Regions from separate parts of the Homo sapiens genome. Here region 2 is linked to region 1. A link means that fine-mapping ties the variant in region 1 to the expression of a gene that starts in the linked region. Tissue or cell type: fibroblasts. Region 1 holds a variant in brackets; the other region holds the start of a gene. All regions are shown on one strand. Distances are from middle to middle.

Region 1 (2,909 bases):
TATATCAGCTATGTGATAAAAATTATTGGAATTTGTTCCCTACTACTTTCTGCATAAACAATTGAGAAATATTTTATACTAATCTTTTTATATACAGGGGATAAATTTGAACATGTGTCTTGTTGGTGTAATAAACAATCCAAATTCATTTCTTTCTTGAAAACTTGGCATCGATCTTCATCTTATTTTTTATGCACACAATTTGGACATGCCAGTTTGTAGGCAAGTTTTAAGACAGTGCAAGTTTTATGTGGAAGAATGTATATTAAGGAATGAATAGCTAATAGCCAAAATTAAATCAGGAGGTGTGGCATTCACTCCTTTGGATGATTATTTTAAAGATAGTTTTGCACTCAGGAAGGATTTTCTTATGCTCTGTATTTATGAATATCTAAATTATCCTGCCTTGCAACTTCAAAACTCAATAACCAAATACCAAATTTATGTATTTTCAGTGTGACTAAGGCTAGGAATATGAGAAGCAGATTGGTTTTATAAAAGAAAGCAAGCATTTACAATTGTATTTTAAAATATAATCCTAATTTCAGTTTCTGACAGAAATCTTGTGGTCAGCTCATCAGTTTTTCAGATCAGTTTCTAAATAGCATATAAAAACTACCTTTTCCACATCAGAAGTTCATATTTAGGTTTCCTTAACTGCAAAATCACTTTAAAAGAGAGTGTTTTATGTGAAGGGCCATTTCATGTGTTGGTTCCATCGATTACATATGAATGTATAAAAATCTTGTTTAAAGACCAGTAAAAGTGAGGAAATTCCAAGTCAGGCTGGCTAATTCCATTCATAATTCATCCCGAGTACCTGACTGAGGAAACTTGCAAACAGTTTATAGCTATACATACAAAATAAGTTGACGTGCTTTGTAAGCTGGAAGCAGAGTTAAGTTTGACCTCCCTGCTTGGAAGGTCTTAAATTAATAAAATTATGGAATATGGTTAAGCTTTTCAGTTTCCCAAGAATTTTCCAATATCGATGCTTTTTGGATTTTTGCATTTTGAAAATGTAAGCATGGAAGGACAACTTCTTTTGTGCTGAGATGAAGTTAGCTTTTACCCATCCATTTCCTTCCCACTTAACACATTTGTTCAGTAATTCTTCGAGTGCTGGGGGACAGAGGCCCTGCCTTGAGAAAAGCATATGCCATTTCTCTGCCCCCTTCAACCATCCCCACCCCCAGCCCTCCCTTTATTTCAAGCCAGTTGGACAAGTATTTAGCATTGACACATGTTTCAAACTGCTGCATCCACAGCCCTAGGTAGTTTTGGGGATTGGCAGGAAATCCATCTAGACTTTGCCTTCTGAGCTGGGTAAAACT[A/G]CTAGGAAGTCCTATGCCTTGATATTGTGGCACTTCTAGGCTGTCTTTCCAATTTTAAGCAATCCATCAGTTGTTTTCTAAGACTGCACTGTAGACTGATGCCTTCTCTTAGTTTTGATGTTCAGAAGATTTTTTAAACATGTTCATAGATTTCTTAAACATTCTGAGTAATTGTAATTTTAAACTAGACTAATTTTAGGGTTGAAAACTGTCCCAGAGAGAGTCCTTACATAATAACTTCAATCTGATGTGAACTCGAATGACTTTTTAAAAATAAGATGTTGAAAATGTGGGTTTCTGGTGGAAAAGGCTGCCATTCACTTAGAGTGGGATCCTTAGGACCAGTTAATATCCACCAGACATGCTTCAATAAACTGGAACAAGCCTGATGTGGAATTACTGACTCCCCATTTTCCTGAATGTAGGTCATTTTGTGTCCTTACAATTTAACGTTTGAAGGGATTTCCTGTCTTTGAAGTGCAACAGTTTGTCACCTGCTTGGCTAGCTGCCTTAACAGTTGGGGCTCCTTTCCTACATTGAAAGACTTAGTGACTCCATGTTCCCGGGCTAGAGTTTCCCAGCTCACTGAATGCATGATACCTGCACCTCTGGGACTCTCCTCTACAAGTTAGTGCCTGCAGATCCCCTGTTCCAAGCTTCATTTCTCTAGGTCAAAGAGCCTAAAAGAAAAGCCCGGGCCGGGCGCGGTGGCTCACGCCTGTAATCCCAGCACTTTGGGAGGCCGAGGCGGGCGGATCACGAGGTCAGGAGATCGAGACCATCCCGGCTAAAACGGTGAAACCCCGTCTCTACTAAAAATACAAAAAATTAGCCGGGCGTAGTGGCGGGCGCCTGTAGTCCCAGCTCCTTGGGAGGCTGAGGCAGGAGAATGGCGTGAACCCGGGAGGCGGAGCTTGCAGTGAGCCGAGATCCCGCCACTGCACTCCAGCCTGGGCGACAGAGCGAGACTCCGTCTCAAAAAAAAAAAAAAAAAAAGAAAAGAAAAGCCCGGAGCCATACACTCACCTGGTTGAAGCCATAAAGAGGTAAGCTTTCATAACGTAGGCTATATATCAAAATTCATAGCTTTTTAGAACCGGAGTAACTAGTGCTCAGGCATTAGAGTCTCAGGCTAGAGCAAAACACAGCAACTGGTGCCAAATGTACGCTAGTGGCTGAAACCCATTTAAGTAATAAACAAACAAATGTCCTTTTAAGAATGTGCTATTATTTTTATTTAAGAATGCATATGACTTTATCGCCCCTTATGATGTGAATCTTACAGTTCAATATTTCAAGTGAAAATCTGCCTGTTCGAAAAGAAAATATTCACAAATGAGCAGTGTATTAGAAGACAACTGAATTGCTTCTAAGAATGGTGGGTATGCTAATTTTTACCAAATGATACAACATGTGCATGCCAAAGCTCTTTGTAAACTATAACACACCTCCAAATGAAAGCAATTTGCATATATTTTAATAAACTTGTCTGCCTTTACCACATCCACCAACTAATCCTTATGCTCCCACTGCAAAGACTCTCCTCTTTTTGGAGAGGAACACCAATTGTTTGA
Region 2 (2,909 bases), 480 kb after region 1:
CGACAGACACAGGGTGTGAGCGATTTCAATCCGACGGCGCCTTGTCAGATACCTGTTAAAATGAAATTCTTTTTCCAGTTCTAGGACTTGCTGCCGGGTGTAGGCCGTTCGGGACCGCTTGGGTTCCCCACCGGTGTAGTTGGGGTTCACTGCGAGACAAAACAGACAGGACAGGCAGGTCAGCGCCCGGCCACTAGTTAGGCCCCTCGCCTCCGCCGCTCACTTCCTGGCGCGCCCCGAGGCCCGCGGCCCTCCCCGCGCGCTCCCAAGCTCGCTTGCTTCCTCCCTCCCGCCCTCTCCCCGGCGCACACGCTCACTCCCACCCACCTCCTCAAACACACCCACATACCCCAGGCTTGCGGGATCCCCAAATGTGCTCCTTCTTCTGGGCCCACCACCAGGTCCGGAACCCTCAAGCATTTTGGAAATCCCCCGCTCCTCCACAGCCTTCCCCCTGCTCTGAAAATGGAGTCCTCCCCCACCCCCCCATCCCCACCCCCTTTTGCGCCCACAGCCGAGCAGCCAGCCACATGGTCCTGACCTGCTCCCTCAGCTATAAAAATTTATGGGGAGAGTAATTGCGGCGCCCATGGAAGCTCCACACGCCCCCACCTACTCGCACCCCCTTCCAGAGGACCCAGGCTAACGGGCTGGGATGTGGACAGAAAGGTTACTGGACCCTAGCCTTACCCGAATTCACGTGCACCTTCTTCATCCAGGGGTAGACCACGGCCGGCTGCTTGAGTGCCGTCCCGGAGGGCGGCTGCTTGGGGTCGGACTGACTGTAGGCCCGGGCGCCAGGCAGGGGCGCCGGCGGAGGCGCCGGGGGAGCTGGGCAAGGCTCTCCTGGAGCGGCGTAGTGACCGCCGGGGCCGCCTGGCTCTTGTCCGTGACCCCGCGCAGGCAGCGCCGAGCCAGGCCCGGGGCCGCTGCCTCCGAAAGGCTGCTCACCGAAGTCGGGCCGTGGGTAGAGCCCCGGGGGCTGGAAGTCTGCGCCCTGCGCGCCGCCGCCGTAGTAGTCGGCGCCCTGCTCGCCTAGGTAGCCGCCCTGCAAATACTCCTCGCACGGAGGGAACTTGGGGTCCACATACTTGGAGTTCACCATATACGAACTCATGACCATTAATTTCAGAAGGTAGAAAATACTAATTTTTCTCGTGTTGTCTTTTTTTCTCCTTCCATAGGGCCCTCCTACTTGCTGTCAACTGAATAAAGTTGGGCAGCCATGTGACCAGGCCAGCCAATGGCGAGGGAGCAAGTTTATCACCGGGTTGGTGAGCATCTCATAATTTTCACAAATTTAACTAAATAACATACGTGTAATCAAGTAGCTTGCTATGGCACATTTGAGAGCCCCTGCCAGATATTAATGTAGTTCCAGTCCCCAGCACCCCATTCCCCTCAGGTAATCCCAGCTTTTGTCTGCCACTGATTTTGCCAACCTTCCGTGGCCCTTCCACTCACCCCCAGCTGAATGCAACCCCCGCCCCCCGACACCAAGTAGGCACAGCTCAAGGGAGAATGAATCCTCCTATTGGGGTACAGAGCAATGAAAGGTGGGTGGGTGAACTCGCCTCTGAGTTGGGCAGAGTGCCCCAGGCGAGGAGGGTTCCTGCCTGCCCGCCCTGCCTGCAGCCGGCGGGAGCAGGGATTCTGCCATACAAAGGCCGCCGTCCTGGCTTTGTCTTCATCAGGGTCACCCAAAAGTTACCAGAATCTGGCCAGCTTGAATCAAATTAGGCAATGAGTAACCGCCATGCTTTCTACCAGTGCCCAGGCCCGGGGGTTCCCAGCCAAAGCTGGGCCCTGCCAAAATAGCAGGGGGCCCTCGCTGCCCTTGCCCATGTAGCTGGGGGTGGGCTGGGATGGTGGCAAGGGCACCTCCACCTTGTCAAAATGCACCCTAGAGCTCCCCACTGGGCTTCTTTGAAGCTTGCTTTCTTCCCACAGGCCCCAAATACAAGCAAGCCCCCATTTGGGTACCTTTGCACCTCATGTTCCTGGAGGGCAGAGCTGGGACTGGGCAAGCTGGCCTTGTACCTCACTCCCTAGTACCCCAAAACCTAGCCCTTTGGCCCTGCATCCATGCAACCAATTAGGCTTGCATTCTCTCTTTCTCTCTCTCTCTCTCTTTCTCTCTTTCTGTCTTTCTTTCTTTTCAGCACCCAGAGGATACTCTGTTTAAAGGTGAGGAGCTTCTGGAGAGGAAAAGCTGCTCTATGTCACCAGGCGCAGCTGATCCTCCTGGAGTCCAAGGTAATAAAACAGAACGAGGCGGCTGACCAGCGCCGGCTGCTTCTAGTCTCCATGTCGCACTTTGGTCTCTGGCTATTCCGAAGAAACGTGAAGTTTTTGCATCGACCATATATTCCCCTAGAATCGAATCTGTGACTATACGGATACCACACAAATTCGGTTCTACAGGGTATATATAGACAACGTTACAACCTCTGGGTCCCACCCAGAGTGAGGTACCTAGGTCGCTGCCGGCCCCAATCTCTTCCTCTGAGCCACCACCGTTCGACGCAGCCACCCGCACTTTCTGAGACAGTTCAGGTAGCCTAATGGGCTTGGCGACAATTTGAAGCAATGAGTTCCCTCATTCTTCTGCCAGGGTCAGGGTTACCAAGCAGGCGAACAACCAGAATATTCTTCTTAAGAAAGAAAAAAAGAAAGAAAGAAAGAAAAATAATCCATCCCAAGGATGGCGGCTTTATTAACCACCCTCCCCCACCAGGATCCAAATAACCCTCCTCCTTACCAAGTGGTATTTTCCAGAAAGGAACAAATGCCCTCAGCGGCAGAAGAAAAAGAAGCGAGAGGGGAATATCCTGTGTCTACTCCTTTTCCTACTGCCCGACCAAGCCAGGTTGTCTGCCAAAGCTACTTCTCCAAGAAGTCGCGCATTT

Direction of the effects. Alleles are on the strand shown, and positions count from the first base shown. SD is a standard deviation of normalised expression in the study named.
As copies of G replace A in region 1, the expression in fibroblasts of the gene that starts at base 1,207 in region 2 goes down (large effect, 0.81 SD a copy in GTEx).

The links. PIP is the estimated chance that this variant, and not a neighbour inherited with it, causes the effect. A credible set is the group of variants that fine-mapping cannot tell apart.
Region 2: it holds the start of HOXD4, and the variant in region 1 is the best candidate, but not a certain one, in a credible set for the expression of HOXD4 in fibroblasts (GTEx, PIP 0.78).

The regions. Positions count from the first base shown.
Region 1 is chr2:176,632,837-176,635,745 of GRCh38, reverse strand. It overlaps LINC01116 (long intergenic non-protein coding RNA 1116), which reads left to right. Exons shown (of 5, transcript NR_188023.1): 2 at 2,621-2,713. Among named protein-coding and RNA genes, the nearest start is that of LINC01116, 3.3 kb to the left of the region's middle. The variant A/G (reference allele first, on the strand shown) is at 1,335.
Region 2 is chr2:176,149,848-176,152,756 of GRCh38, reverse strand. It overlaps HOXD4 (homeobox D4), which reads right to left and starts at 1,207. Exons shown (of 2, transcript NM_014621.3): 1 at 691-1,207; 2 at 1-149. The coding sequence starts at 1,123. MIR10B (microRNA 10b) reads right to left here and starts at 2,454; the gene lies at 2,345-2,454. It also overlaps a transcript of HOXD3 not described here. RefSeq lists an enhancer at 755-1,488.